4 separate regions of the Homo sapiens genome follow, and regions 1, 2 and 4 are each linked to region 3. Evidence: fine-mapped QTL for protein levels in blood plasma. A gene starts in region 3. Each other region holds a variant in brackets. All regions are shown on one strand. Distances are between the middles of the regions. Region 1 overlaps CRTAC1 (cartilage acidic protein 1). Region 2 overlaps CRTAC1 (cartilage acidic protein 1). Region 3 holds the start of CRTAC1 (cartilage acidic protein 1). Region 4 overlaps GOLGA7B (golgin A7 family member B).

The links. PIP is the chance, under the fine-mapping model, that this variant and not a neighbour inherited with it causes the effect. The UK Biobank Pharma Proteomics Project read protein levels with antibody pairs (Olink). The fine-mapping took linkage between variants from a reference panel, not from the people measured, so its PIPs are less certain.
Region 1: its variant is fine-mapped to the plasma level of the CRTAC1 protein (UK Biobank, PIP above 0.99). The variant lies in the coding sequence of CRTAC1. If it changes the protein, the assay may bind it differently, which can mimic a change of level.
Region 2: its variant is fine-mapped to the plasma level of the CRTAC1 protein (UK Biobank, PIP above 0.99). The variant lies in the coding sequence of CRTAC1. If it changes the protein, the assay may bind it differently, which can mimic a change of level.
Region 4: its variant is fine-mapped to the plasma level of the CRTAC1 protein (UK Biobank, PIP above 0.99). The variant lies in the coding sequence of CRTAC1. If it changes the protein, the assay may bind it differently, which can mimic a change of level.

Annotation. Positions count from the first base shown.
Region 1 is chr10:97,920,472-97,925,615 of GRCh38, reverse strand. CRTAC1 (cartilage acidic protein 1) reads left to right here. Exons shown (of 15, transcript NM_018058.7): 4 at 2,216-2,352. Among named protein-coding and RNA genes, the nearest start is that of MIR3085, 47 kb to the right of the region's middle. The variant C/T (reference allele first, on the strand shown) is at 2,251.
Region 2 is chr10:97,877,540-97,882,683 of GRCh38, reverse strand. CRTAC1 (cartilage acidic protein 1) reads left to right here. Exons shown (of 15, transcript NM_018058.7): 14 at 2,292-2,435. Among named protein-coding and RNA genes, the nearest start is that of MIR3085, 4.2 kb to the right of the region's middle. RefSeq lists a silencer at 1-192 and an enhancer at 1-680. The variant G/A (reference allele first, on the strand shown) is at 2,321.
Region 3 is chr10:98,028,607-98,033,750 of GRCh38, reverse strand. It overlaps CRTAC1 (cartilage acidic protein 1), which reads left to right and starts at 3,130. Exons shown (of 15, transcript NM_018058.7): 1 at 3,130-3,302. The coding sequence starts at 3,279.
Region 4 is chr10:97,863,396-97,868,539 of GRCh38, reverse strand. It overlaps GOLGA7B (golgin A7 family member B), which reads right to left. Exons shown (of 5, transcript NM_001010917.3): 3 at 4,458-4,610; 4 at 4,271-4,372; 5 at 1-2,950. The coding sequence ends at 2,840. It overlaps CRTAC1 (cartilage acidic protein 1), which reads left to right. Exons shown (of 15, transcript NM_018058.7): 15 at 2,826-3,540. The coding sequence ends at 2,992. Among named protein-coding and RNA genes, the nearest start is that of MIR3085, 9.9 kb to the left of the region's middle. The variant G/A (reference allele first, on the strand shown) is at 2,978.

The DNA.
Region 1 (5,144 bases), 110 kb after region 3:
TCACTCATCCCCGCTCTCACACTCTCATCCCCACTCTCACACTCACTCTCACTCATCCCCTCTCAACACTCACTCTGACTCCTTCCCACACTCACTCTCACTGATGCCCACATTCTCACTCACTCATGCCCACTCTCTCACACTCACTCGTTCTTGTCCACTCTCATTCTCTGACACACTCTTACTCTCGTGTACTCACCACACACCCTCACTCACACACCCACTCTCATGCTGACACACACTCATTCTCAGCCATTGTCTCACTCTCACACCTACCACTCATTCTCATGCTTACACTTTTTCTCACGCACTTGCTTTCACATACTCATACCCTTTTCTTTTTTTGAGACAGGGTATTGTTCTGTCACCCAGGCTGGAGTGCAGTGGCACAATCACAGCTCACTGCAGCCTCTACCTCCTGGGCTCAGGTGAGCCTCCTGCTTCAGCCTCCTGAGTAGCTGGGACTACAGGCATGTGCCACCACACCTGGCTAATTTTTGAGGGGGAGGGTTTGTAAAGATGGGGTCTTGCTATGTTGCCTGGCTGGTCTAGAACTCCTGGGCTCAAGTGATCTGCCCGCCTTGGCCTCCCACAGTACTGGGATTACTGGCATGAGCCACTGTGCCCAGCCCACTCACACACTCTTACTCTCACTCATGCTGGCTCTTACTCCTGCATACTCTCACTCATTCACACATCCACACACACATTCACTCTCACAATGCTCACTCTCGCTCATGCTCACACTCACATACTTCCCACCCTCACACACACCCACTCACAGAATCACTGGTTTTCACCAAACCCCTGCAGTGCAGGGCTGATGTCTCTAAAGAACCTTGGAAAGTAGTTCATCTATAACATGAGAAAAATCATTCCTGTCGAAAAATAGCTACCACTTTGGTGGGGGGACCATCCCAAACCTTTAATGTGCATCATCTCATTTATTCCTCACAGTAAACTTGACTGTAACTACTGTCATCCCCACTCACAAGTAGGAAAACCGAGGCTCAGAGATGCTGGGCAGCATGCCTCGAGTCTGGAGCCTAGAAGTAGAATCCAAGCAGAACCAACACTGGGGCTCCAGATCATTTCCATCACCCTGAGCTCTTGGCCCCTGGGCCCCTGTGCCATGCTGTCTCTCCTCAGTCTAAGCCTGCTGCCTCTTCCCTGGCCCAGACAGTCAAGTTCAGGGTTCTGTCCCCAAGTCCACTCTTCCTCAACCTCACCTTCCCCAATTCCTTCAGCTGCTCCTCTCCCTGTGTTTCCTGTCCAGCCCAGGGGGTAGAACGAGGACCCCCCTAAACTACGAACATTCGGGGTCTTGCATTAACAAGAAATTAACTAAGGATGATGGCGGAGGAGAGACCTCTGCCTTTCAAGTGGTCACTTGAATGGGCTTGAGACCTCAGCAACCAGCAGTTATTCCCTCTTCTCCAGAACAAGGCTTCTTAGTCACGAACGAGCTCCAGAAGGCCACAGACCTGAAATGATGTATGGCATGTTGTGTGGTGTGCAGACCTGCAACTCCCTGAGCTGAAGGTCCTTCACCTCCCTCCAATTCTCAAAGGGGCCAGTAATCCAAAAGAGGTGAAAACCACTGCCTTCTGGGGCTCCCCAGTCCTGGGACCAGGGGCCTCCCAGGGCTGCCCAAACTCATCACACCCCAGGCAGAACAACCCCTCATTTCTCACCCCATCAGAGCTCAACTTCCAGCCCCTTCCTCAGGGTGGACTGAGACCTACCCATGAACCAGAACCATTTCTTCTGAGACCCAAATCAGGTAGGTCCTGCGATCCAGTAGAGAATGTAGGGACAGCGCCTGGAGAAAGAGCCATCCTGGGTTGAGTTTGGATGTTGCCGTATTGCAGTCCCAGGAGCTCCTTGATGCTGTTGCAGGAGCACGGGGCAGGGCATGAAATCCAGCTGCTGAGGGTCATCTTGGGCACACTGCAGCAGTGGCACTTCCTCCCTAGTTCCTGAGGCCTGGGCCAGCCATCTTCATGAGGCTCAGAGTCTCTTCCCTCAACTGGAAACATGTGAGTGCTCCCCAAACACAGAGGAGTCTCACCTGCTTGAGGTCTTCCTTGCCGCAGATGACCCAACCTCCTCTGGTCCCAACCACCTTGTGAAAGGTGCCATGAGACATACCCAGAGATCAGAACCAAGACCCTGATCCACTGTCCACCAGCCCTCCCTTTCCTCCTCTCTCCAGGGGTGGCCACGTACACCGACAAGTTGTTCAAGTTC[C/T]GCAATAACCGGTGGGAAGACATCCTGAGCGATGAGGTCAACGTGGCCCGTGGTGTGGCCAGCCTCTTTGCCGGACGCTCTGTGGCCTGTGTGGACAGAAAGGTGAGTGCAGGGGCACATGGGGTCCTGGGGAGAAGCCACATGAGAGCCAGGAGAGGAGCCACTGTGTAGACGTCCCCTGACAGAGTGGCGTCTCCCGCGGTGTCTTGGATAGATTGGGTGCTAAATACCAACAACTAAGACTTGCAGAATGCATTCCTATGTACCTTTCACATCCTGTCTCCCATGCAGCCCTCCCAGAAACCAGTGAGGAAGCCAGCCAAGGGATCATTGTGTCCTCGGGACACTTGTGGGGATGGAAGCCTAGCTTGGAGCAGTGACTTGCATGGGAGCCCAAAGCAGATGAGTGGTGTGGCTAGGACATGAACCCACCTCTTCTAGCTCTAAATCCTGCCTGTATTCATTCACTCAACTAACATTTATTAAGTGCCTCCTGTGTGCCAGGCACTGAGCCGTGGGGCCCTTCATAAATATTTACGGAATAAATGAAGGCACAATGGAGGGGTTCCTAGATGGGTGAAGGGAGGGTTGCCTCAATATACGAGTACTTTAGTTCATCAATAGCTCCTCCAACGTTTTCATGCTCTGCAAGTGCACCCTACACAGAGGTGCCCCACCCAAACTGGATGGGGAGGAAAGACGGAGTGGGAAGGGGCATGAGCCACTGCAGCCATCTGCCCGGTGAGGGGGCAGCCGCCCACCCAGGCTTAGGTCCCAGCAGGCCTCGCCAGAGCCAGCAGCTTGCTGCAAAGGTGATTTATCCCTCCTGTCACCTGCTCCCCTGCCACCCACCTCCTTGGCTTTGTAAACAGTCATCACTAAATCAGGGGCCCAGCTGCTGCCCGGCTGCCACAGGAGTGTCTATGGCCCCCATTCTGGGGGCAGGGGCAAGAGGTTTGGCTCACTTTGGGATTGAGATGGCACCGAGGGGATTGGGGATTCAGTGTGAATCTTTACAGCAGGGGCCTCCAGGCCTTGGGAGAAGGCAGGTGCCAGGTATAAATATTTATTTCTTAACAAGCTGGCGCTGGGAAGAGAAGCCAAGCTGGGCTGTGAAGCCACATTTAGCCTGACCTGAATCTGTGCCACCTGGACTCCTGCCTGGTGGGAGTAGATGGGAAGGCAGCTCTGTGAACAGCCCCAGAGTGTGGGGTGGAGCTGGGGGGTGCCAGACCTGGTCACGGTTAGGGGCCTCTTCCCAGCCTCCTCCCGGTTTCCCATCTCACCCGTTCAGGACCAAGGCTTTTGACACTCAGCTAACGTGGGCAACTTCTCAGAGAACTGGGGGGAGAGGCATGCAGGTTAATCACAAAGAGATGCACTCTGTCCTAACAAGGTCATCTGCACACCCACGCATTTAACCACAGGACAAAGGCACTATGTGAAATGAAAAAAAAAAAAAAAGATGACCTGGCACTGCAGCACAGGAGGCAGGCGTCCAGAAGCTTGCTCACACCCTGCTTAGCCCCTGACTTCAGTCTCCCAGGCCTCAGAGAACTAGAAAGAAGCCCTATGGTCAGTCTGCCAGCAGAGGAGGGTTGCTTTCTGAGTCCAGCCACCACCTTGGCCATCCCTGGGGCCTGAGGACTGCCAGGGGAGGAATGGAGAGAGGCCAAGGGCAGCCTGGAAGTTGACAGAGAGGAATGCAGCATGGTGCAGGAAAACACGAGAGCAAGGACAACAGTAACAGCCAACACCTCTTACACTAGGGACATGCCGAGCCTTATGCTGCATGCTTTAGCTGCCTCGTCCTACTGAATCCTCATAAGACACCAATGAGGTAGATGCTGTCACTATCCGATTTGACAGATATGGAAACTCAGGTTTTGAGAAATTAGGCAACTTGACCTTGATCACACATGAGGCAACAGGCAAAGCCAGGAATTGAACCTTGCCTGCCTGAAAATGAAGATGCCTTTTTACCTTCCGCCTCCCTGCCCCTGGGTGAAATGATAGCAGACACAAGTTTCTAACTTTATTATAGCACTCACCCTAGTCATCCTTCCATAGCCCCATAGCCCCTACCTGGGGCAGGGCCTTTTAATCTAGCTACCTGGTCAGTGGATCTCAGTGTAGCCTCTGGGCCAGCAGCAGCAGCATTGCTAGAAATGCACATTCTCAGGCCCCGCCCCACTCCACCCTCCAGACAGACTGAATCAGAAACTCCAGGGGTGGGGCCAGCAATCTGAGGTTCAGTTAGCCCTGCAGGTGACTCCAATGCATGCTGAAGTATGAGACCTTTTGCTCCATAAATGCCTCAGCCCCGCCCCCACTCTGCCATGTGCTGTTCTCTCTCTCTCCCCTTCCACCCCTCACTCATTCTCTGCTCCAAACCCGGAACATCCACTTGTCCTTTCTCACCAGTTGCCTCATCACTCACCCACCTTTCTGGATCCAGCTCAAAGCTGATCTCTTACAAGAACGTCCTCTGATCAATAATGATTATGCCTCATTGTTTATATAGCATTTTTATCTTTTCAAAGACTTTTCACATACATTGTCTCATTTCATCTTCTCAAGAACCCTGCAAGGAAGCAGGGGGAGTATGATCTCCATTTAACATCTGAGGAGATGCAGCCTGGAGGCAGCCAGGGATTTGCCCGAGGACGAGGAGCAGTTAGGGGCAGGCCCTAGACTAGGACCCGGGCTAATGGCCCTGGACCAGTGGTTCTCAAAAGTGTGGTTCCCAGACCAGCAGTGTCAGCATCATCTGGGAACTCGTTAGAAATGCAGATTCTCATGGCTCACGCCAGACCTGTTGGTCAGAAACTCAGGGGATGGGGCCAGATGTTTAAAAAAAAAATCTGTGTTTTAACAAGCCCCCCAGGTGATTC
Region 2 (5,144 bases), 150 kb after region 3:
AAAGGAGGACAGGGGAGGGTGTTGTTTGTCCTGGGACTCCAGATGCCAAGACAACCACCACATGACTCACCAGGGTGGGAGTGATATTAGTGACCCACAGGCTGAATCACTGCGGTTCTGGAAACTGGCAGTGTTTTCCTGCCATGAGTACCGAGAAACTGCAGATGGGAAGGAGACACACCACCAACCTGGCACAGGGGGAATAGCCACATGCCATGGCCAGCAAGTCCATGTGGAGCAGCAAGCAAGGGGGCTGGCAGGCAAGGGTGTGCATTGCCAAGGGCATTGGGGCAAAATAGTGTATGGAGTGTGGTCACAGTGTGGAACGGAGACTGCAGCCTGGTGCAGTACTGGGGCAGGCAGGTAGCTGCAGCACTACCAGGATGGCAGCTCCTTGACGGTCCAAGAACCTTCTGAAAGTCCCCAAGAGCCTGGAATGGGAAGGGGCAGCCTAGAAGTTCAGTGTCCAGGAGACCTTCACCCCCAACACTTTCCATCCCAGTGACCAGCAAGGAGGGGTCAGGCCAAGGATCCCTCCTTCCTTGAACCCTCATCCAGCATTCTTCCCAAGTCTACTCTGCAGCTGCTCATTAACCCTTTGCTACTGAGATACAGGAGTAAACAAGACAGATACCACTCTCAGGAGCTGAAAACCAATGGAGAGCCACAAAAGTAAACAGCTGTCGACCACACAGTGTGATCAGGGCCCAGATGGGGGAGGGCAGGGGCTTGGAGATGACAAAGCAGGGGCCCTAAACCAGCCTAGGGAGGGTCCTAGAAGGTGCCCTAGAGAAAGTGAGGTCCAAGCTGGGCCCTGAGGAATGAGGAGCAGTTCGGCAGTCACAGAGAGGGGAGACATGGTTCTGGTGGGGGGCACTGTCTGAACAAAGGAGCACAGGTGGGGAGGTGGAGGAGCAGTGGTGCCAAGGGTGGCTGGAGGAGGAAATGACTCCCCTACACTCTCCACATGCCCACCCAGCCCCACTCCAAACACATAGTGCAGGTGCATAGAAATTCCAGAGTCTTCTCTGCCTGCAGGAAGGACCCTTTGAGATCAGCCTCCTCTTCCTTTTCATCGCCCAACAGGCAGTTATGTGCCTCGTACACAGCAAGTGTCATGCTGGGAGCTGGGGATGTAGGCCAAGTGCCACCCCCGCGCCTCCACAAGAGGGGCATCCATTCTAGTGGAGGGAGACAGACCCTGAACGCATGACCACACACCTGGACAAGATGATTTCAGAACCCTCTGAGCAAGGTGCTCCCTGGAGACTGTTCCAGAGAGAGTGGTCAGGGAGGGCCTCGGGGGGAAGACTCTGAGCTGAGACCTGAAGGATGAGAAGGATCTAGGCCCAGAAAGAGTTGAGGGAAGGGCAGGAGTGAAAAGCGGGAGACAGGACAAAGGCTTTGTGTGTTGAAGGAGCAGGAGGGATGCCAGTATGGCCTGGAGATGATGGAGAGTCCATGAGGCCCCTGTAGGGAGTCTGAATTTTGCTCTTAGGAGCCTTAGAAGCTAAACTGGGGAGTGACATGATGTGATTCACATTTTTAAAGGCTCCCTCCAGCTGCTGAATTGCAGAGTGGATTGGAGGGAAGAGGGGAAGCCAGGTATTCTGTGAGGAGGCAGCTGCAGAAATCCAGGCAAGAGGTCACGATGGCAGGAAATTGGGTGGTGGCAGAGGAATGAGAAAGAGGTGACAGAGAGAGGTGGACTGGTGGACTGCGGGGCAGAGTGGACAGGCTCTGCTGTGAAATTGCACAGGGGGCAAGAAAGACGGAGAAATCAGGGGTCGCTCTGATTTCCCCTTGAGCAGCTGATTGATGATGGGGGTGTTGATTGAGCTAGAGAAGACAGAACAGAGGGCCAGAATATGGGCAGGGCAGGGCAGAATCTGGAGTTCTATTTTGGACATATTAAGCATGAGGTGCATCTTAGACATCCAAGTGGAGCTGTCAAGTAGGTCATGGGTTATTGTATTCGTGAGTCTGGAGCCACGGGGAGAGGTTGTGACTGGAGATAGAACTTTCGGAATCATCCATGCATGAAGAGATCACCTAGAACGATTGTAGTAGACAGAAGAGAGGACCCAGGACCAAGCCTGAGTGCCCACCCCCTGCCCCCAGCATGTAGAGACCAAGTACAGGAGGAGCCAGCCAAGGGAACTGAAGCAGGGAAACTGAGGCTCTGCGAGGAAGGCACATTCCCAAAGCCAGACAGTGTATAGGCAGGCAGAGCCTGGGCTGGTACTTGCTGCCCCACACCTTCATGGTGAGTGGTTCCCCTCGCCTTGCAGACACCAATGAATGCATCCAGTTCCCATTC[G/A]TGTGCCCTCGAGACAAGCCCGTATGTGTCAACACCTATGGAAGCTACAGGTGCCGGACCAACAAGAAGTGCAGTCGGGGCTACGAGCCCAACGAGGATGGCACAGCCTGCGTGGGTGAGTGGGGCCCCAGCCATAGGCCAGTAGCAAAAGGATGTTGCTTTCCACTGGGGAGCTCTGGGTAGGCCCCAGATCAAGGTCCCCAGCCCCTTCCTTCTCCTGGCTGGATAGAGTCTCCTTTGACCCATATTGGGTCTCCAGGGAAGACCATGACAGAGGCTTGGAGAAGCCCCATCACTTCTACCATCACCTGAAGGGCCAGGGGATGCTGTGTCCTGGCCTGAGGCTATCATTCTTCTTACTTTTCCTAAAACAACTGTTCCTACCTTGAGGTCAGCCCGTATTTTCATAGCTGGGATATAAACTAACTCCTACTACTCATCTTTGGCTGAATTTCTAAACTGGTAATTTCTTCTTCCCAAACTCCTTCCTCCACCCCCACCCCGTCCCCACCCCCTTTCTCTTTTTCCCATTTTCTGTCTCCCCGCCGCATCGTTTTTGCAGCTCAAGTGGCCTTTTTAGGTGGGTATTCTTCAGCCGCCTCTAGAATCTCTGAGCCTCTCTCTCGGGCCTCATATCTTTCTCTAGGCCTTGGACTTTGCCTTCAGTTATATGCACTTTAAATCCCATCAATAAAGGAAAAAACAAAACAAAACTAACAGCCTTTGTGGAAAACTAAATCTCTCTCCTGCTGCTTGTCTCTCTCTCCACGCCCAGTAGGTTCTGCTGTGTGCTCCCTCTGAATGGACAACAGGGGTGGCCATCTTTGAAAAGGGAAGGTTGGGCGATACTGACACAACCTTAGTTGTTTGTGAAGACTTTCTTTGCATGTTTTCTGAGAAAACAGAAAGGAAAGTCTCCAATACCCCATCCAGTCTCCCTCACTCCTTCAGAAGAATCAAGATAGTCTTGTATCCTCCAGTGTCTCGTGAGCTCATTATTTTGCCCTTAACAAAGATGGCTCCCAGGTGGTTGCTTGCCGGTTGATCCGATAATGTACCATGTGCCTGCTGGTTTGGCCTGTGCTGTTTCTGCTTTTTGCCCCTGACTTCCTGTGCTAGAGAAAGCCTTATTGGTGTTGGTGGTGGTGATGGGAGGGAAAAGGGTGGTCCTTTGGGACTCTTGATAAAAATGTTATCATTTGAACTTGCTAAGCCTTCCAGCCTCTTTTCTGAAGAAATTATGCCAATAAACTCTCTACTAGATATTAGTGCCAAACTGATGATAAAAAGGGTCTGGGGCAAGTAGAACTGATTGGAATGCTGAATTAGGAGCAGCCCTTCCACCATGAGATGCTTTGAAAGCAGATCATAACACAAAGCAGGTGTCACCCTCAGGCACCAGCAGTGGTTTGGTTGCGTACAACAATGTTCACATTTGGGGGACCAGGGTTTGGGCCAAGTGAAGGATGTGTGATGAGTGAGGGGCAGAAATGGAGTGTGTACTCTAGGCCTTTTACCTGCAGGAAGTCACTTCTCCATGCTGTGCCTCAGTTTCCCTAATGTAGATGACAAGAGAGTTGGGCTGGTATATCCCTAAGGGCCTTTCCTTTCTAAGACTCCTCAATGTCTGGCTGGACATAGGCCTGGCTCATCTCAGGTTACTCTGATTTCTAGAAAGAACCTTGCTACTTGGTCTCTGCAATCTCCTTGGAAAATAGAATGCTCCTGTAGCCAGAACACTCTTTGGAAATGATGTAACGCCACAGAATATGCTCACGACCAGCCTCAGTAGTGAAGGCTTGTTATAAAACATAGATCTATTCTTCATGGGGAAAAAAAGTCATCCCAGGATATAATAAAATTACACTTAAGAATGCAGCAACCCTTTTAAAAACATATTCAACAAAAAAAAAGCCCCTGCCATTTTCTGATATCATGGTAATACTCCTAATAAATCACAAAATATGAATTCCTTGTAGCTAGTGCTGTTTTTACACTTAGAACAGAAGCATAAATGAAAAGTTTTTAAATTAAAACAGCTACAATTTCCCTGAAAAGCAGACACCAACTTAAAAATCATTCCACTTCTAGAAAGCCCATTCCTGTGTATTGACATAGAACTAAAGATCTGAAAGGGCTCCAGAGATGAGGCTCAGAGAGCTGAAGTGTTCAAGGTCACTGTGCCCAAGGTCATGGAGCCCACTGCTCCCCAGGCCAGGGCTGGAGCCCTTTCCCACCACACCATCTTGTCAGAGGGTAACAGGCAGCTCTGTCACTGTTCAGACTATTCCCTAGTCCTTCTGGAAGCTGCTGCCTTTTAAAAAATGAACAAAGTGGATCTAAGATAGTGAGATAAGTAAAACCCAAAACCCATGGAGGAATGGTTCCAAATGCAGTGGTAAATGACAAGATAACAGAGCCCATTGACTGTCCATACACAACAGCACAAGAAATAAGGGACAAGACAACTACAGAGATGGCCTGCCAAGGACATCAGGGGGTTCAGGGTGACAGCAGACTTCAGATGATGCCTTATAAGTGACAACCATGAATGCCTTCACAATGAGTTTTATATAACAGGGTATATCTGTGTCATGTGATCCTGTTGGGTGAGTGGGGTCCAGTGAGTTGCAAAGAGGAGTTCTAAGTTCCCACAGCTGATAAGAGCACCACTGCAGCACTCAGACTCCAGGATAAGGCTTCCATTTGATTCATTCATGAGTTCAACAGATACTGATTGAGCACCTACAATGTGCCAAATATTTGGTTAGGCTCTAGGCGTACAATGGTAAATGAAGGTAACAATGGTAAGTAAAAGTAATAT
Region 3 (5,144 bases):
GCCAATACCACAGACGTGGAGCTTAACCACAGAAGTTAATGTTCTCACAGTTCTGGAGCCTGGAAGTCCCAGATCAAGGTGCTGGCAGGTCTGGTTTCTGCAGAGGCCCTGCTCCTGGCTTGCAGATGGCCTCCTCCTGTTACTCAGGCAGGCTTTCTCCTGAGGATGCACAGAGAGAAATGGGAGATCTCTGGTATCTCTCTCTCTTCTTACGAGGACACTAGTCCTATTGAATTAGGGTCCACCCTTATGATCTCATTTTGCCTTAATTGCCCCTTTAAAGGCCTTATCTCCAAATGCAGTCACACTAAGGGTTAGGGCTTCACTATGTGAATTTGGTCCGGAGAGGCACAATTCAGTCTATAACCGTGTGCATGTGCCTCAAGAAAGCTGTGTTTGGGCAATGTGGGAGGACAAGAGGTCTCTCACGGGATTGGGGGTGGGGAAGGGCTGGAGCTCTGAGCAGACACTGACATGAACTGAGCAAATGGACATCGAGGACATCAGAGAAATGAGAAATTTTCCAACCAGGACTGCCTGGCCCACTGGGCTAAACCCTCACAAGTTCAAGTGCTGAAGCCAGATTGTATTCCCTGGAGCACTTCCTGGCTGGAACATCTCCATCATTTCCTGCATTTTTCTGTCCTTCCCTAGCACCTTTGGTCTGTTGTAACCTTACCTGGCTAGCTGCAGGAAAGTGTGAGATTATTACAGAGTTATTTTGCACAGAGCACCTATTCACATCTGGTTGGCTAATGCTGATAATTACCGTGCTGGTTACTAAATCTGTCGGGTCTGGGTGAGGTGAGGCGCTACAGCTGGGGCTGCTGTGCACAGCTTCACCGGAGAAGAGAGAGGTGAGAACAAAAACCAAGAAAGGTGTGCTCAGATGTTTGGGATTGAGTGAAACTGGTTAATTACCAGTCACTTGCTGTCTCCCTGAGTTGGAGTTTCTGGCTAAGGAATGCTCATAGATCAGACATAATATGACAACCTGCAACTTATTTCCACATTAAGAGGGTGGCGGGGACCAAGATGCAGAGAAAGTGTGGAGACAGTCTCTCAGGTGCCAGAGCCTTGGCCAGATGACTCAGATGCCCTCAGAACAAGGTGGTGGCATGTTCCAGCAGGGTGCAGAGCCAACTGGACTCCTTATGCAGAGAGCTGGGGATCAGATATGGCCTTGGGGGCAGAGTCTATTTGCCGATAGATGAAGGTTCTTAATCAGGGCCCTAGATTAAGTTTTAATGATCCACGAACCCTCCTAAAGTTGCATGTCAACATGTGTGTATGTGAGTGAGCATTTTTATAAGCAACAGATCCATAACATTTATGAGATTCTTGAAAGGTTCTAAAGGGTCTGTGATCCCCAAAAGGAGGGTGATTATAAACTACTGTCCTAGACCCCTGAAGAAACAGGTTGACATTGGACCGAGCCCCAAGAGACTCAGGGTTCCTAATGATCCTGAAAGTATACTCAAGGTGTGTGTGTGTGTGTGTGTGTGTGTGTGTGTGTGTGTGTGTGTAAATGTGTGTGTTTGTATATTTTTCTAGAAAAATGATTCAGTAATTTTTGCCAGATTTTCAAAGGGGCCCACAACCTTACAGGCTTGATGGGGGCTCAAAAAGCCAGAAAGTTTGTCTGTGCCTAGCTATTTCTTTTCAGAGGAAGATCACAGAGACCTGAAAACAGAGCCCAGACTAGGTCCTGGTAGTTCTGCTCAAAATCTGTGGATAACAGGGGCCAGAGGCTGGATGTGTGGCCCTCTATAAAAGAACACATTCAAATCATTCTAAGAGTCAAGGGCCCAGAAGCCAGACTAGTGGGTGATGGTCACAAAAGCGTCAACGGATGGGAAAACAGTCCTAGCTCCTTCCCTCTCCGATGGTGGATTCCCAAGTCTTTCTCTTCTGTGGCCCCTTTACCTGGCTTTCAGAAACCCAAAGACCTCACTCATGGAAGCTCAGAATTCATTCAATAAACACTGAGCGCCTACTATGTGCCAGGCTCTATTCTAGGCGTAAAATAAAGGATTTGCCTTCAGAGTGTGACCCACCAAGGCCAGTTTCCTGCCTGAACAGGGGTATTTTGAGCATTGCTGATCAAGTGTGTTTTTCTGGCGCTTAGCACCCCCATTCCCCTGGTCCAGAGAGGCAGAAACCATCCCCCCACCACCACCAAGGCAGCGGGTTGGGGGCGAGGAGAGGCGGGCAGTACCTGTGATCAAAGCGGTGAGGGAGGCTAGTAGGACGCAGGCGGCAGGAGCGGGTGGGCCAGGCCCGACTCGGCCACTGCTGGGGTAGGGACTAGGTGGGATGGGGTGGGGGCACTGCTGGTGGGGACGGGGTGGGGTAGAAGCGGCGCTGCCCGCAGCCGCCTGGGCCTCTGCGCGCCTGATCTCCGAGCTGCGCTCGCCCGCTCCCCGCCTGCGGGGGCCGTCGCGGAGCCCTGCTCTCCATACTGAGCAGTCCCCGGGAGGTGCTCGGACACGTCCCCAGGCTGGATAAAGATCGGCTCGGCTCTAGCTCCGTAGTCGAAATCTCGCCATCAGCGCGGCTCGCTCGGCCGCTTTGGCCCGGCCCGGCGACGCCAGATCGCTATCCTGGGGGGAAATGGGAAGGCAGTGCAGCCGCTCCCGCCTCCACCCTCGGTCCTGCGCGCAGGGGTGGCCGCGGGGTCCTGGGGCTCGCCGCCCTCCCCTCCCCCTTCGCGTTCCTTCCCTGCGCTGCCTCCCGAGGGACCCTCGCTTCCCTCCGGCCTGGGGCCCCCAGCGCCCAGCCAGGCGCCCTCTCCCCTCCTCGCCAGGCCTCGCTGCCGCCTGAAGGTTACGCGACGCAGTGGCGGGGCGCGGGGGGCGCCCGCCCTCGCCGCCGCCTTCGCCGCCGCCCACCCCAGTGGCCGCCGCGCCGCGCCGGGCCAGCCTGGCTGCCGGCTGCTGCCACCGCAATCCCGGCTCCTAAATCAGCGCGGGGAGGCGCTCCCTCCCCACGCCCGGCTCTCCGGGCTCTCGGGGCCGCGATTGGCCGCGCCGGCGCCCCCCACCCCGGGCCCCCGGCTCCAGCTGCCGCGCCATTGGCTGCGGGCCTCCGCCAGCCTTTACATAAGACCGGGCGCGCTCGAGTGGAGTTGTATAAAGCGAGCGCGCGGCGTCGGGGCGGGAGGCTCGAGGCCAGCCCGGGACCGGGGCTGGGAGCAAGCAGGCGGCGGCGCCGGCGGCAGAGGCGGCAGCGAGCGCCCGCTTCCCACGCCCCTAGGCGGCGGGGCCGAGAGCGGGAGGATGGCTCCGAGCGCTGACCCCGGCGTGAGTATCTGCACCGGTGCCCCCCACCCTAAGGCGGAGAAAGTTTCTCCAGCTCTGCGCGCCCCCCCGGATCCGCCCGCAAGGGTGGCGGGGACGCCGCCCGGGAACCCGGGAAGACTGGGATCGCGAAGGCGGCGGCTTCGCTCCTAACTTGCTGGGAGGCGCTGGACTCGATTGGCGCGCGGAGCCTCCCCCGCGGGCTGGGGGTGAGGCGGCGGCCGGGTTGGAGGTGGCGGAGAGGTGGGAGCTGATGTGTGGGGGCGACAGCCAGCAGCTGGCAGAGAAAGTGTTGGGGGCGCACTGGAGGTCAGCTGTCAGGGGAGGGGGCCTCTGGGGCCTGGAGGGGGCGGAGCGGGTGAGGAGGGATGTGCCGGGCTATCGGGAGAGTCTCCCAGTCAGCCAGGCTGAGACCCGGGCCTGGGAAGCCACTGGCCTCGGCCGAGTGCCTACGCTTCCAGGCTGGGGAAGAGCCCCGCGGGCTGGCTCTTCCTCCCCTGGGAAGCCGAGTTCCCGGGCACAGCGCTGGGTGGCAGAGAGCTCCGGGAGCCAGCCCCGCGCGCGGCGTAGCTGCTAGCCGCCTTATGCTGGACGAGGTGTGGTCTTCCCTTCAGGCTGCCTGAGGCAAGCCGGCTTCAGGCATTCCAGGGGAACCCTGAGTCCTCCTCGACCCCGTGGGGGCACTTGGAGGCTTTGATGGGGCAGCCAGGCCGGGCTTGGGGGCATGCCCAGCAATGCAGCGCGCTTCTTTGCAGTACAGTAGTTGGGAGCCCTGGTTAGTCCCGCTTCTGCAGAAAGCAACTCAAGAATCCAAAGTCATCCCAGCCTGGATGGAAGCCTCCCAGAGTGGCGGGGAAATTCTCCTAGGGTTGAGAGCTGGGGGGGCTTCCTCCAGGAATGACTAATGAATATTGCTGCTGCTGCCGCCGCCGCCGCCGCCGCCGCCGCCGCCGCCGCCGCTGCTGCTGCTGGTGGGTGCACCCAGTGTGGCTTCTGCACATCCCAGGAGATGCTTCCGTTCTCCTGACAGGACACATTCTTGAGTTGCACTTGAGGTGTCTTCTGGGATGGGTGCAGGACTTTCCACGTGAAGCCAAGTGGAAAAGAAGGGAAGAGGGTCCCAGGACAGGGGACAGTTCTATAGTGTTTTCTTGAGTCAGGGGAGAACTCATGTGGGAAGAGATAAGCGATTGACGGAGATTTGGAACCCAGACGACTTGGGGCTGGAGATGTCCAAGACTGAATTAGAGCTCATTGAGAGTCACAGAGTACCTCACCCTCAGCCATGGGGGAGAGGTGGAGGCTGGAAAAGTGGGAACATGGTGGCTGTTCCAGCATGGTTCTTGAGAAAATGTTCTCTCTCTCTCTCTGACTTGGTTAAGAACATCCTTCTGGCAGTAGGTCCTAAAGTCAATTTAAGAGGTAATGAAGGGAGTTGAGGGTCTTGATGATGGCACAGAGGACCACAATTAGAACATTTCCATTTCCGGTGGGTACTAATGGACTCTGGAAAAGGTCGAAACGGTGTGTAGGGAGTCTGGGGAACCTGCTCTGTGGCTGCTCATTTGAGCCTGAATCCTCCACCTTATCCCATCCCTGAATGTAGGTGGATGTTCAAACTCCTAGGGTACCTGCTTCAGCCTGGAGATATTTTATGGGTGCTATCAATCTATATCCCAACCCCCAGCTCCATCGTTGTCTGCTGCAGTCAACATTTTTCTGCTGCATTTCCCAAGACCTTCTCTCCACTGGGGATTTGTGCAGCGAAATACCTGCTTGTTGCTCTTTCTTCCCTTCTCCATCTGGGCTGCACCTGGTGTTCTGAACCCTGGTGTTTATTCCTTG
Region 4 (5,144 bases), 170 kb after region 3:
CCCAGAGGGGACTGCCCAGCCCCCACCTAAGAGGCTGGAGCCGTTGTCCCCACAGTCTGATGAGCCCCTCTCTGGGAACAGGCCTGAGTTTGTGATCCCAGCCTCCCTGCAGCCTCAGGCAGCTTCCCATCTGGGTGCCATCCCTGTGGTAACAGAGTGGGCACTGAGTCAGGAGACCTGGGTTCCAAGCTTGGGCCCTGTTATCATCAACCAGCTGTGTGGCCTAGGGCAAGTCACCCACCCTCTCTGGACCTCTGTGACAGGATTCAAGTGATCTTTAAATCCCCTGCCAGCTCTAACATATGGTTTCAGCAAAGTATCTGGCACATAGTAGGTGCTCAATAAATTATAAAATTCAAGACACAACTCTGCTAGGTTCCAACATCCAGCTACTTTCTCCATATTTGATCTTGGCCAAAAGGCCGAGAAGTGATCATCCAGCTACTTTCTCATCTTCAGTACTGAGTGACCTGTGTGATCCAGCTCCCAACAGGACCCAACCCAGGGGAAGAGCTCAAGAAATGAGGATTTATTGATATCATTAATTGATTACTTTTGGCCTCGCTTTCAGTCCAACCTGTTCCCCCACCCAAGGCTACAAGTGCCCCAAAGATTCCAGATTAGAGATGCTGAGGTGTCTGCCTCTTCAGTAGACTGCAAGCTCCAAGAAGACAGAGTTCATCCTGCTCCCCATGTCAGGTCCAGTTCAGGCAGCTGAGTATCCCCTCATGTGGTCCTGGAGCATAGAACTGACCCTCCATCGTCACGGGGCAGAGAAAGCATCACAGAGCTTCACGCTGGGCAAGTTCTTTTATTGGAAAAAGAAAAAAAAAAAAAAGGCCATAGCACTGCCTGTGCCCAGCCCTCCCATGGGAGATGCACAGGTCAGACACAATGCCCAGCCCCACAGGGGCCCAGGGAGGGCATAGGCCGTGGCCAGGGGCTGCGGTGGAGCCCACTGAACTGCGGCTCTCCAGGGGGATCCTTGGACCAGGACTCACTTGGGCCGAGGACTTCCTGAGGCTGCAAGGACTAGGCTGACTCTCTCTGGTCTCTGGGTAGGCCCTTGTATCCTACATGCTGCTCCCATGTCTGGTAGAAAAGCAGGCCTCTCTTTGACTCCAGAGAGCTACCTCCAGTGGCTGGTCTTGCACATCCACTTCTAACACCTCCCGCCAACTGAGATAGGCAGCCCCCTTCATTTCATCTTCGGGACACCAGCCCCAGGGGCTGCTCCCATCCCACCTGCTCCTCTGGGCCTCAGAAGCCGGGCATCATTGGCTGGACATCTCCTTTCCTTGCAAGGAGGGAGTTTGCCTTTCCCCTGCAGGCTGCTGGCACCTTTGAAGGTCCATGGAAACCTCACCTACAAAGCCTTAAAGAGCCCCAGCCCCTGGGCAGGCTGAACACACAGTGTCTGCAGCCCCGTTGTCTTGTCATGGGGAGCTGAGAGGGGGCACCAAAGGCCACCAAAGTTTGGCTCTTCTTTCCTAGAACCCCGGCTTCTCTTCCACTAGAACATATGCAGTAGAGTATGTTCCCTGGTAGCCCTAGGGGAGGGGCAAGGGGCTTTTGGACATTTACTTACAGGGGGTCAGGCTGGACCCACACAGGGAAGAAGTCACAGACCCTCAGGTAGCGAAGACAGCAGGATGCAGAGAAGCAGTCGTTGGCCTGGCAGCCAAGGGGAACACACAAACACACTCACACACACATGCACTCACCTGCATACACACACACTCATACACATGAACACTCATACACACATGCTTGTGCACACATGTTCATGCACATGCATGCACTCACACTCATATAAATGCACATTTGTGCACACGTGTGTGCACATGTACTCAGACACACACAGGTGTGCTTATAAATGTGTCCACATTCATACACTTGTGCACTGGTGCACACACATGCGCTCACACACGCGCTCACATACAGGCATGCTAACACACGCAGACTCACACATTTACGCACACTGCACTTACACACATGTGCACTCACACATACATTCACATGTGCATACACACAGGTTCTAATCTCAGGAAACTGGCTGTAGTTCAGGAGATTCAGGCCCCGCATGGCTATGTCTCTTCACGGAGTTTCCCAGACCCCCATATTACCTCCCAGAGCCCCAGGCTCTGTGCCCCCCAACCAGCACCTGGCAGCCTGCAAAGTCTCAAAGTTGGATGCTTCTCGCAAGGCCGAGCTGGCCTCTAGCTCTGAATGCAGGACAGGAAAGCCATAGGTCTAGAAGAGGTCAGGAGTGCGCTGAACAGCTCCCAACCACGGCACCCGTCTCCCCACACCTTGAATTTGGTGGAGGCAGGATCATAGACAGGCCGGGGCCCTGCAGGGGCATGAGAAGGAACAGATACTGGGAGACAGCCACGGGACGCAGGGCCCAAGGGAAAGAGTCCTGGTGGATATGGGTTTGGGATGAGGGGTCATGCAGTGTGGGAGTCCTCTATGTGGCAGGCCTCGGCCCCCCTCGCAGGGTTGGGAGAGGGGCTGTGGAAGAGAGGGGCCGCCTAGGTTGTGTTCTCCCCACCCCAGCCTTCCTAGGAAGATCTGTCTCTGTGTGGCCCAGACCAGCCCCATCGGGAAGGAAAAGCCCCCAGGTCAGGAAATGGACTGATCCAGACGGGGGTGAGGGACAGGGGGCATAGGTTGATGGCCCACAGGAAATATGAGGCCCGTCACCCTCCCTCCCACCCCGGGCAGCAGGGTGAGCCCAAAGAATGACTCAGAAGCGGGTGCTCTGGTAGCGCAGCCGCCGCAGGTCTGCAAGGCCCTCACTCCGGCCATACACCTCCCTACAGGGACTCTCGGCCAGTCACCGGGCCCCCGCCCCACCACCCCCACCGCTGCTGCTGCCACTGCCGCTGCTGCTGCCGCTGCTGGAGCTGCCACTGCTGCACCGGTCCTCGTAGATGGAGATCTCAATCTGGGGTCGGTGGTTAAGGAGAGCTGC[G/A]AGCCCAGCTGCTGAGCAGGGGTGGGACATGAACCAGCGGATGGAGTCCAGCAGGGGAGTGGGAAAGTGGGCTTGTGCTGCTGCCTAGACAGTAGGGATGTAAAGGCCTGGGAGCTAGACCCTCCCCAAGCCCATCCATGCACATTACTTAGCTAACAATTAGGGAGACTCGTAAGGCCAGGCCCTGTGCTGGGCACATAGCTGTGATCACAGCAGACAGGGTCGCTGCCCTGATGGCGCTTACATTCCAGTGGGTCTAATGACCATATCTTAGGACACAGATGTGCCCAGGGAGGTGGTGTCACTGCACAGGAAGTATGAGGACTTTAGTGTCCTGAGTTCAAATCCTGATTCAGGAACTCACAAAGCTATGTGACCTTACACCAGTCACTTAACTTGTTAGCCATCCATTATCGCATCTGCAAAATGGGGATTAAGAATAGAATCTTGGGGTTAGTGTGGAGATTAGATTAAATGTATGTAAGACACTTGGCACAAAACCTGGCACATAGTAAAGGCTCAATAAAAACAAGTGCCTCTCACTGGGCTTTGTCAACACGTGATTCTGGGTGTTTGTGGTTTTTTGACTCTGTTTCTCCTCAGTTTTCCAGTAAACCTTATTTTTTAGCAATTCTACTCGTGTTGCTGCTGCCCGGGGGGAGGGATTTGTGCACACCCAGATCACACTATTCCAAGTGGAGATAAAGTCAGCAGAACCACGCCCCACCCCCGTCCAGCCTCTCACCAGGACTGAGACCTTGGGGTAGTCACATCATTCTAGACCTCATGTCTCTCATCTGTGAAAGGAGGACAATGCGACCTGCCACGGGAGATTCCATGAGGATTGCATGAGACTGTGGACCTGTAAATGAATGTGGTGATTTGCATATTCCTGGAGGGGTCTTTGTAGTTAAGGGTGAGCCTGGGTGCAATTCCTGGCTCCCACATTCACCAGCTGCACGACTCTAAGCAGGTTGCTGGGAATAATCAGAGCAACCCACCTGGTAAGATTGTTATGAGAAGTACATGAATTCGTATTTTCAAAGCACTTCACATGATAGCTGGCATATTCTAAGCACTGATTACATGCAGCCCAACAAGTGCAAATCCTGAAACTCACAAAGCCTCCAATAACTTAGGGTGGTGGAGGAGGGCTGAGGACCACTGATGTGGGGAATCCTGGGAAAACCTGAGTGGAGGCCCCTAAGGTGGCCTCGTTTCCTGGCAGCCTCACCAGGATCTCTACTGGTTAGCAGTCCTGTGCCCTCAACACAGAATAGCCCAGAAGGATACAACCCTCATCCCACGCTCCACAGGGTCTGTAAGTAGGAGGCCTCGAGGTGCAAAGATCTTCTCATTCTGCTCCTGGATGTAGCGGGAAATCTTCTTGAGAACCTGCAAAAAGAGGAGCCAGACAAGGATGAGCATGCCACAGGGCAGCCCTGAGGGAAGGGATGCACGGTGGGGCGGGAGGGGCCACCTTCTCATAGTGGGTCTCCATGCAGAGGAAGATGAAGTAGGCCGTGGCGCAGGCCAGGCAGCCCTCGAGGTAGGAGCTGCCCCCAATCTTCTCAGCCTCTGCGTAAAATCCGTTGAGGGTCTTCACAGTCTCTTCAAAGAGCTGCCGCTCGATCTGGAGAAAGGGACAGAGCCAGGCTGCGGTTAGCCTCCCTGGAGTGTGCACAGTCACAGGTAGGGCTGGAAGTGACAATGGTGGGGCCATGTAGATGGGGAAGATGACATTGGCACACAGGCAAGACCAAAGAGGCTGCAGGCAGAGCCGAAAGAGCACTGGCCTGGGAGTCAGGAGACTGGGGGGGCCAGTCCAGACTTGGCCATCAACTAACTGGCTGAGTGACATTGAACTAGCAGCTTAACCATCTAGGCTTCAGTTTCCTCATCTATAAAATGGGAATAAGAATGGCTGCTTGTCCTCCCTTGGAAACAGGAAATTCCCATGATATCCTAGATGTTTTCTGCAGAAGATCAAACGAGTATTCTAGTGACTTTGACACGTCCCATCTTGCTGGTTGTGAGAGAGCTCAGGACTAGATTCATAGGGGCTCTCCATGTTTGGATGGGACTGCATGAGACTGCTTCAGTGAGACCTCAGGGGCATCTCTCCAGGAAGGGGCATTTCCTTCTAGCTCAGAGGTCACCCACAACA